3 linked regions of the Homo sapiens genome follow. The protein of the gene in region 3 interacts with the protein of the main gene of each other region in a pairwise test. Each region holds a gene or a part of one and is shown on either strand. Other genes may lie near its edges.

Region 1 (3,656 bases), on a different chromosome or scaffold from region 3:
ATCCATAATCATGGGCTCTATAAACTGTTTCCTTTGTGGTCTAGAAATAATAATGTAAAAAAGCAAAATTAGGCCAGGCATGGTGGCACACGCCTGTAATAGCATTTTGGAAGGCCGAGGTATGCGAATCACTTGAGGTCAGGAGTTTGAGACCAGCCTGGCCAACATGGTGAAATCCCGTCTCTTAAAATACAAAAATGAGCTGGGAGTGGTGGTGGGTGCCTATGGTCCCAGCTACTTGGAAGGCTGAGGCAGGAGAATCGCTTGAACCCGGGAGGAGGAGGTTGCAGTGAGCCGAGATCACCCAACAGACAGAGCAAGACTCCATCTCAAAATAAATAAATAAAGCAAAATTAGCAATTTACCATTTGACAGTATATAAGTGACGTGAGGTAAGTTGCTGTTAGAGATGATAATCAAGATGAGGAGACTTAAAACAAAAAAATTACACAAATCTAAAAATATTTTGGGGAACAAAAATAATTGGAAAAAAATTTTAACCTTTGACACCTTTTTTTTTTGGTGGGCCTAATAATGTAGTATATACTATAACATATATTAATATAACCCTGGAAGAACGAAGTTGTTTACTAAAGTGTTCTTGGTTTGCTTTTCTTTTTTTTTTGTCTTTGAGACAGGGTCTCTGTCACCAAGACTGGAGTGCAGTGGTGCAATCAAGGCTCACTGCAGCCTTGGCCTCCTGGGCTCAAGCAATCCTCTCACCTCAGCTTCCCAAGTAGCTGGGACTATAGGCGTTTGCCAGTATGCCCAGTTAATTTTTGTATTTTTTATAGAGAACAGGATTTGCCATGTTGCCCAGGCTGGTCTGGAATTTTGAGCTCTAGAGATCCACCCCCTCTTCACCTCCCAAAATGCTGGGATTACAGGCATGTGCCACTGCGCCTGGCTTGGTTTATTTTTTTCTATTATGTGGAGAGAGATGGGAATTTAACCAACTATCAATAAAAATCCTTGTGTCTGAGTAGGACACATATTTACCACCTGATCCTTTATCCAAGTTAGTATTTCTCTGTGAACTTAACCCTGATAAAGGGAGTTGAAACAGAGGCAGTTTTACTGGAAATAATTATTTTTCTTTTTTTTCTCTCCTTTTAGGAAAACGAAAAAGAACAAACAGAAAAGTAAGAATATTAACTTTCTTAACGTTAATTTATGTTACCTCTATGACATTGACGTTTTTATTTTGAAAGCTATGAAATTTTGGAGTAAGCTTATGTTTATTGATTATCTCAAATAGGAGTCTCACAGCAGTGTTATAAAATAGGTACATGGTGGTAGAGACCTCTTTTTGCCAAGGAGAAACTTGTGAGCATTTATTTTCATCTGCTTTAGTCTTAATGTCTCCCACTGAGAAGATAACATTTATAAATAAATGGAAGATGGTGATACTAAATGTTGTCTATACTAAATGTTCGGTAGAGCTCTTCATGAAAGTTGTATTTTTGGTAGGAATATGATTCTTTAACTTAGATTGAGGTAACAGCTGTGTAATGGAGAAATAATGAAAAGGGTTAATGTGTCAAGAGACTATTTTCCTTATAGAGTTTGTTAAATTAGCTAAATGAGACCCCTCCCCGCCAACATTTACAGCACCTGGAAATGGAGATGGTGGCAGTACCAGTGAGACCCCTCAGCCTCCTCGGAAGAAAAGGGCCCGGGTAGATCCTACTGTTGAAAATGTGAGTTTTTCTTGTGTTTATGAATAGCATGTTAGGATTTTTAGTCTCAGTTACATGACATAACCATGGGAGCTTTGATTATCTACAAGATTTGCTTACATGGTTAATACCTGAAATTAAAAATTTTCTCTTTTGGGGGTAAAGGATAAATTTCTGTATATCTTTATTTCACCTGTAGCTCCAGATTTACCTACCCAATTGATCATTTGTTGTGTAAGCTTCATGTTCACCTACAAGACTATTTCTTTGGTGTTACGTATTTATTTTTAGGAGTTAAAGATGTACCTTTAAGATGGTTGTGTTTGGAATAGTTTTGATATCCATGGTAAATAAGAAAATACTAAGTTAAAATGTATCAAGTCAGGGTGTTTCATTTCCTGAACAAGAGGAACCTTACTGAAGAATTTTTACCTTTACAAGAAAATGCACTAAATAGACTATAGTTCAGGTCAGATTCTTTTCTCCCAACAGCGAACCGCGTATGGTCGTTTTTATTAATGATTTTAAAAAATGACAGTACAGCTGTATGCTTGGCTACTTTAAGATTTATCCCTAGTGCCTCTAAAAGTCAGCTCCCCTCCATGTTTGGTATTTAGCAAGAAAGGTTAGGTTTTTAATACTCCTCCTGTTTCTGTTTAGGAGGAAACATTCATGAACAGAGTTGAAGTTAAAGTAAAGATTCCTGAAGAGCTAAAACCGTGGCTTGTTGATGACTGGGACTTAATTACCAGGCAAAAACAGGTAACTTGAAAAGCTACCCAGATTGTTAAGCTATATGATACATTCTTGCTAGCAAAAAAAGTTTTTAAAGGAAAATGTTATATTGACTTGAATTATTAAGGTATGACTGATAAAATAATATTTTAATTTAGAGGCTGAACACTTTAGAACTACTACCAGAAAGAGTAAGTTAGAAGAATAAAAGTTCACATATAAATTTTATGAGGTTATAATGATAAAGGTGGAAATAACTCATTTTTGGAGATTGCTAGGGCAGGAACTCGTTCTGAAAATTCATAAAGGTGAAGAAGCATATGTCTTACTGTCATTGCTAATGGTAGGCCATAGAAAGCACACACCACCACCTGCAAGGTATTCATGACCCTGAAAAGAACCTGAATCTTACTAAGCGCCTGGATCTATTGTTAGTTTGCAGGAAATAGGATGTTTAATGGAGTGACATGTTTGTCAATCGTTGAACTCTATAATTGAGAATTTTATAGGACAAATGAAGCTATTTGAACAAATGGCATAGGTAGGGTTAGGGATAGTTGGGGGAGATGATTAGGGACTGCTTGAGGATTATGAGACTTAAGAGACCTATCAGTCATATACAGTATGTGGATATAGTTTGAATTCTGATTTGAATCCTTTGGAGGGTTATGCAGTTACAGCTAAACTGCGAAGATTCAAGCATGGCTGTATCACTTATTATTTGTGAGTTTGGACAAGTTTCTTAGCCTTTTTGTGCTTCTGTTTTTGCATTTAATGGAATAATAGTTTGTATTTGACAATGCTGATGAGAGGACGAAAAGATAATTATTTTAATGCTTTAGACTAGATCTAGCAAATAGTATGCATAACAGTAAATGATGACTTGGTAGTACCACAAAGGCACATTCGTGTCTGTTATGTGTGTGTGACAGATTGACATTTTTAAAAGCTGTGCTGTTCTGTCTAGTAGAGTCTCATTTGGCTGTTTAAATATATAGATGCTCCATAACTTAGAATGGGGTTACATCGCAATAAACCCAGCAGAGAGTTGGAAAATTAAGTCCAAACCATTGTAAGTTGGGAACTGTCTGTAGTTTCTCAGCCACATTATCCATGTTTTAAGTGCTGAATAGTATCTTTCCTAATTTGAAATACTGTTACTGTTACCTGATCTTTGTATAAAAACTTGCCTGGTATGATTTTTCTTTAAAAAAGAGAGTGCTTATATTTAAGCATATTTTT
Region 2 (3,656 bases), on a different chromosome or scaffold from region 3:
ACTGGGCGCGGTGGCTCACACCTGTAATCCCAGCACTTTGGGAGCCCGAGGCGGGCAGATCACGAGGTCAGGAGTTCAAGGCCAGCCTGACCAATATGGTGAAACCCTGTCTCTACTAAAATAAAAAAATTAGCCAGGCATAGAGGCACATGCCTGCAGTCCCAGCTACTAGGGAGGCTGAGGCAGGAGAATAGCTTGAACCCGGGAGGTGGAGGTTGCAGTAAGCCGAGATCATGCCACTGCACTCCAGCCTGGGCAACAGAGTGAGACTCCATCTCAAAAAAAAAAAAAAGGTAGAATACTGTATAGTTATAATCTAGTCACCACGTATTTTTCCTAAATGAAAAAACTGGATAAAACAGTATGTAAAACACTATTAAAATATATTTCTATACACATATATCAAAATACTAATAGCAATTATCTGTGGGTAGTCAGATTATAGGTGGCTTTCATTTTCTTCTTCATCTCAGTGGTCACATTTTATGCCAGGAGTGCATAACTAAAGACCTCACATAACTCAAAACTCACATGAAACAAGATTAATCCTAACAGAAAAATTAATCCTATTTACCTGCAAAAGTGGTGCCACCATGTGGCAAGAACACAGAGTTTATAATTCACTTGGCCCCAGCTTTGAAAATAATTCTATACTTTATTGATTTGGGGGCAAAGGAGAATGGGAGGAGAAATTTATGCAAATTTATTCCTTGCATATATTAATATTCTGTACTTTTTTCCATTCACAATTCAAATTTACATTGCTTGCTATGCATAGCACTATACTGTTGAATTTTCCAATTTTTTGCCAAGTGTAACTATTATATCGATTACTTTCATAATCAGAATGAATCATTTTTTGAAAGAAAAAGTTCCCATTTATCCAAAGTCTACATTTAGTCACTTTAACTCGTTTAGAAAACCAATGACATTTTTATCTCTTTGGTTTCCTCACAGATGAGGATAACACTATAGTACTATAAAATGATAATTATGACCACTGCAAAAAACAGTATCTAATTTTATATTTGTTTCAGCTACCACTGAAAATAAATCAATTGCCCTGTGCTAGGGAAAAAATGCTAGGTAAAGAATAAGACCAAAGCAATCAAGAAAGCCCAGCTTTTTCAAACTACCAAATTATCAAGGGACCTTGAAATGCAAAATTCAACATCTACATATGAAGGCTTTTTTACAAACTGGCCGCTTTTTCAAGGAGCATCATTGCCAAGTAATTTCATAAATAATGCACAAAAAAGGCAAGATGTCTGAAGCAGTGTCTGCCTCACTATTGCAAATATTAATGAAGAACAAAAAAAGAATCCCCCGTTCACCTGGCAAACGAGTAGAAAAGCAGATGAAGTTATTTTTTGTTTTGTTTTGTTTTGTTTTGTTTTTGAGATGGAGTCTCGCTCTGTCACCCTGGCTGGAGTGCAGTGGTGTGATCTTGGCTCACTGCAAGCTCCGCCTCCCAGGTTCACACCATTCTCCTGCCTCAGCCTCCCAAGTAGCTGGGACTACAGGCGCCTGCCACCACACCTGGCTAATTTTTTATATTTTTAGTAGAGACGTGGTTTCACCATGTTAGCCAGGATGGTCTTGATCTCCTGACCTTGTGATCCGCCTGCCTCAGCCTCCCAAAGTGCTGGGATTACAGGTGTGAGCCACCGCGCCTGGCCAAAGATATTTTTAAGTCCTTCACAGTTGGTACCGTTTTATACTTGCCAACTGGAAGAGGAAGTGTTTTCAATACAATAAGCAATAGTCTCATACCTTTCATCCTTCTCGTGCAATATACTTAGGAGAAATGTTTCATAAAGAACTATAAATTTTAAAAAACATATACATCAAGAGGTAAGATTGGTTGAGTAAGAGTTATAAACCATCTTTTTTTTTTTTTGAGACAGAGTCTTACTCTGTCACCCAGGCTGGAGTGCAGTGGTGCAATCTCGGCTCACTGCAACCTCCACATCCCGGGTTCAAATGATTCTTGTGCTTCAGCCTCCCCAGTAGCTGGGATTACAGGCACATGAGACCACACCGGCTAATTTTTGTATTTTTAGTAGAAACAAGGTTTCACCATGTTGGCCAGGCTGATCTCAAGCTCCCGACCTCAGGTGATCTGCCCACCTCAGCCTCCCAATGTGCTGGGATTACAGGCGTGAGCTACCACGCCCTGCCATCTTAATTTTTTAAAATTGTTTTTCTACCTCATTTTCTCTAGTATCTCAAACCCAACAATCCTTGAACCCACTGTGCCCTCCAAACCACTTATCCCTTACATGTCACTGCCTTTCTCCATAAAGGCCTCACTTCCCTCTTTACCTAGCCTAACTCCTATGGTCACTCATTGTAATAACTTATCATCATTGAACCGCATAGGTACTCATCTCCCTTGTCCCTCTCTTGCTGTCATACTTGTTAGGCAAAAATTGCAACTGTGGTTAAACCTAATTGTTTGCTCACTCCTTTCCCGTACTCATGTAGCTGAAATGTGATGGGAAAAAGCACCAAATCAAATTTTTTTTAGAGATGGGGTCTTAGTGTGTTGCCCAGTCTGGGCTCAAATTTCTGGGCTCACAAGATCCTCCCACCTCCGCTGGGACTGAGGCTTGTAGCCAGGACTACAAGCATGAAGCCACTGTGCCCAGTATGACTGATCTAATTTTAATCATTATGATCTTCAACAAGTCCTTAATGCTGCCAAGTTTACATGCTGAGTCCATTCATTGTCCCACTCTCCTAAGGGGATTACTTCTCACATTATTGTCTCTCCTCAACCTCACACTGCAACCCCATCCACCGTTCCAGCTGATGTCTCTGATTTCAACTTCCTTAAGAATATTGAAGCAAGGCTGGGCATGGTGGCTCACACCTGTAATCCCAGCACTTTGGGAGGCCAAGGCAGGTGGATTGCTTGAGCCCTGGAGTTTGAGACCAGCCTGGGCAACATGGTGAAACCCCGTTTCTACTAAAAATACAAAAATTAGCCAGGCGTAGTGGTGTGCACCTGTAGTCCCAACTACTTGGGATGCTAGGAGACGGACACTGAAGTGAGCTGAGATCACACCACTGCACTACAGCTTGGTTGACAGAGCCAGACCCTCTCTCAAAACCAAAAAGCCAACAAAAAAAGAATACTGGAGCAATGCAATGAAAGAGTACTTACACAAATTCCACCACTATATCACTAATATGTCTACAGACATTTTTCTTGTCACAACTAGGAACAGCAGTACTATTGGCATCCAGCAATCAGAGGAGTGGTGCTGCTAAAACCTCCTGCAATACACAGGACAGCCCCCACAACAAAGTATCTAGCCGAAAACGCCAGTAGTGCTGAGGCTGAGAATCTCTGACACAGATGAACTACCCATATTCCTATCTAAAGCCTATCCCTCTGCTAGATTCCTTCCTCTCTTGTCTACTCCTGCAAGAATCCTCTCCCCAATTCCCCTATATCAAATTTTTGCTTTCTACTGGATCATAAAAGAAAAACTAATCCCTTAGCCTAACGTCTGCTGTCATCGTCTACCCTGTTTTTCTTCCTACCTTTTTTGAAAACTCCCCCACAGGGTAGCCCATACTCACTATCTCCACATCTTCTCTTCCCATTCTCTCTTAAACCATGCAATCAGGCTTTCACTATCATTTCA
Region 3 (3,656 bases):
TACCAAGCATTGTTCTTGACTTAGAGAGCAGATGACATGGCAGCTCTCTCTCTCTCTCTCTCTCTCTGTCTCTCTTGCTTTTACAACCAGCCTAGTTTCCACAGCTACTTTTAAGACATAGCCAATATTTAAAGTATCTGCTGAACATTCAGTTCCCAGAAGCCCAGCTTTGGATGACTCCTGTGTCCTTGAGGACAATGAGTAGGGGAGACCTGGTTCCATCCGGGCCTCCGCTGCTCGATGGCTGTGAGCCGCCCAAAAGCAGCTGGCAGAGGCAATCCCTGCAGCTGCGAGAGGCCTCTCAAAAATGGATGCAGTGTGTTCCTCCCAAAACCAGTGTTCGCCCTCTTCTACAGAACTGAAGGGGCAGAGAAAATTCACTTTTTAATTTGTCATTTCAACATATATTTTTTCCTTTTCAGCCAGTACAGGCTACTCTGTCATCTTTGAAGATGTTAGATGTGGGAAAGTGGCCAATTTTTTCCCTTTGTTCTGAAGAAGAACTACAGTTAATTCGTCAGGCTTGTGTCTTTGGCAGTGCTGGCAATGAAGTTTTATACACTACAGTAAATGATGAGGTAATTTTGAAGAAAATAAATCAGCTACTCACATTTTTAGAAATGGATTTGCCAAATTGAAGATCTTGGGGGAACTAAGGAATAAAAGGTTAAAAAAAAAAGCATGGAAATTAGGTTTTATTTATTATATAAAGAAGCAGTTTGCTTAAGGAAGATGATTCCTGTTTGGATGTAATTTATAGATTTGTTAGAAATAGAACTGCTTGAACTAACAGTGGTTTTTCCCATAGATTTTTGTGCTTGGCACAAACTGCTGTGGCTGTTTGGGGTTAGGTGACGTCCAGAGCACCATTGAACCTCGGAGACTGGATTCTTTAAATGGCAAAAAAATAGCCTGCCTCAGCTATGGGAGTGGTCCACATATTGTCCTTGCAACAACAGGTAACCTAGGAACCCCATGTAGAATTTCAGCTTTATTCGCAGCTGCCCTTGAGAACATTGTTTAATTGGTTGAGAGTTGCTAGCTCTTCCTGTGAAATTGACTATGTTTTGGATACCATAAAACATGAATGTATCTGAATGCCAGCATAAGGTGATGTGGCAGATGGAATCTAGGAATCATTGGCATTTTAGATGTATGAATGACAACGCTGTAAGCCCAGTAAACACTGACGAACTGATTGTGGACTTTGGCAAGTCTGTCTGAACTTTGGATTCTTGATCTATGAATTGAAAGACTAAACCTTGTGTCCAACATCCCCCCGCCAACTCTTAGCATTCTGTGATTCTTACACTAAAGAGTGACTGATGGCTGTAGTTGGCATTAGTAGTAGGGATTAGCCACTTCATAAGGGATTGACTAGAAAAATTCCTTGCTCTGAGTGAAGCAAGGAGGAAAAAAGGAAGAAAATAAATAAAACTTCTCCCCAAAAGGTTGTAACCATGGATTTGTAGTTTAATTCACATCAAGACTGAACGGTCCAAGAAATCTCAACCCTTGAATTTATTCAAGGTACTGGATGGCAAGTGCCTTAAGGGCATGATAGAAGTTAATGCAGATCCTTTCTAGGGGAAGGCACCTTTATCCTAGGCCTGAGAGAATTAACCAAAATAATTGTTCAGTGGCAATAGGCAGCACATAGTCAGAGATAACCAGATATACAGTAGTCTCCCGTTATCCTTGGTTTTACTTTCTCAAGTTTCAGTTACCTGCAGTTGACTGTGGTCTGAAAGTATAAATGTAAAATTTCCAAAATAAACAATTCATAAGTTTTAAATTGTGTGCCATTCTGAGTAGGGTGATATTTCACCATCTTGCTCCATCCCAGCTGGGACATGAACCATCCCTTTGTCCAGCATCTCTGCCATAGACACTCCCACCCGTTAGTTACTTAGTAGCTGTCTCAGTTATTAGATTGACTCTCTTGGTTTCATAGTGCTTGTGTTCAAGTCACCCTTATTTTACTTAATAATGGCCCCAAAGTGCAAGAGTAGTGATGCTTGCAATTTGGATATGCCAAAGAGAAACCATACGGTTCTTGCTTTAAATGAAAAATGGAGAGTTTCCATGCTGAGGTTGTTAAGATTTATGGTAAGAACAAATCTTCTATCTGTGACATTGTGAACAGTACATTTTGTAATTGTTCTCTTTGATTATTAGTTATTGTTGTTAATCTCTTACTATGCCTAACTTACAAATTAAACTTTATCATAAGTATATACGTATAGGGAAAAACAGTATATACAGGTTCAGTACGAGAGTCTTAGAATGTATCTCCTGCAGATAAGGGGGGCTTGCTATGCAAGGAAACAAGGTACCATGAATGGGAACCAGAAGAAACAACAGACAGCAAGAACGGATTACTAAATATCAGGCATTAAAATTATCAGACACCAATTATAAGACAGCTGTATTTATTATTTGAAGAAATTAAAATGAGCTTGAAAATAATCTGCAGGGATTATAGAAGATTTGAAAAGATCCAAATGAACAATATGATTATCAATATGAAAATTCAGTGGACAAATTTTGTAGCAGTTTGAACACAGCAAATTAGTAAAATTAGTAAACCAGAAGATAAATGAGAAGTCACTATTCAGAATATAACACTAAGAGACAACATGCTGGAAAATACAGATGAAATGAGTACAAACTGTATGATTCCATTTATTTAAATTTCAAAAACAGGAAAAACTAAACATTTGTATGCAAGATGCATATGTGAGGGCCTTTTGGGGGGTGATTATAAGGTTATATTTCTTGACTTAAGTAGTAGTACATGGGTGTGTGCTTTCTAATTTGTAAAACTGTACATATATGTTTTATTAACTTTTCTGTATATTATGCTACCCAATAAATAATAACAAAGATTTTTAAAAATCAACTTGGTGATTATTTTAAAGATAAGGAAATTAAGACCTAGGGGAGTTAAGTGGCCTTCTAATATTTGACTTCATTCTAATGTTTTTGCTATTACTCCCAGCAGCCTTTTCTCTGCTCTTTATTAAAAACTTATTTTCCAGTTATTATAACTGCATGCATTTAAATTTCACCTTGTTGCTTTGAGGTAGAATGCAGTTTATACTTTCCAAATAGATTCTTTTGTAGAATGACTTTGGTGGAATGGGGAAGTTGATTAGCTTTTTGCACCTGAATTTTTAGATTTCATTTGTGGAAGCTGTGCTACATATATTTTCGTATAATGAAGTAGATGTTGTAAAAAACTGATTGTCTTTCTTTTTATTTTCAGAAGGAGAAGTCTTTACCTGGGGTCATAATGCTTATAGCCAGCTGGGCAATGGGACAACTAATCATGGTTTAGTGCCCTGTCATATCTCTACTAATCTGTCAAACAAACAAGTCATTGAAGTTGCCTGTGGGTCTTACCATTCTTTGGTGCTAACATCTGATGGAGAGGTGAGAACAGTCAGCATAAAGCTCATTGATTTTTTTCAATAAGATTATGTAGACTTCTATAGTAGTCCTGGAAATACAATCATTTGATTAAAATAACCACCTCCCTCAAATTCAGCCTTATTTTTGGTAGCAATTCACAGTCAGGGTGTTGATGTTGTGACATTTACCTGTACGTAGTAAGGTCTTCCATAATTGCAAAATTTAAAAGGAGGTATTGTTCC

The links.
Region 1: the proteins of RCBTB2 (region 3) and MORF4L1 interact in binary tests that used the Homo sapiens proteins (3 or more experiments, as listed by UniProt).
Region 2: the proteins of RCBTB2 (region 3) and COPS4 interact in a two-hybrid assay, tested with the Homo sapiens proteins (one large-scale study listed by BioGRID and IntAct).

Annotation. Positions count from the first base shown.
Region 1 is NC_000015.10:78,889,873-78,893,528, forward strand, and holds part of MORF4L1 (mortality factor 4-like protein 1), read left to right. Parts: intron 1-1,116; coding exon 1,117-1,142; intron 1,143-1,611; coding exon 1,612-1,700; intron 1,701-2,339; coding exon 2,340-2,441; intron 2,442-3,656. UniProt on the Homo sapiens protein: Component of the NuA4 histone acetyltransferase (HAT) complex which is involved in transcriptional activation of select genes principally by acetylation of nucleosomal histones H4 and H2A.
Region 2 is NC_000004.12:83,052,084-83,055,739, reverse strand, and holds part of COPS4 (COP9 signalosome complex subunit 4), read right to left. Parts: intron 1-3,656. UniProt on the Homo sapiens protein: Component of the COP9 signalosome complex (CSN), a complex involved in various cellular and developmental processes.
Region 3 is NC_000013.11:48,512,508-48,516,163, reverse strand, and holds part of RCBTB2 (RCC1 and BTB domain-containing protein 2), read left to right. Parts: intron 1-422; coding exon 423-578; intron 579-808; coding exon 809-959; intron 960-3,268; coding exon 3,269-3,435; intron 3,436-3,656.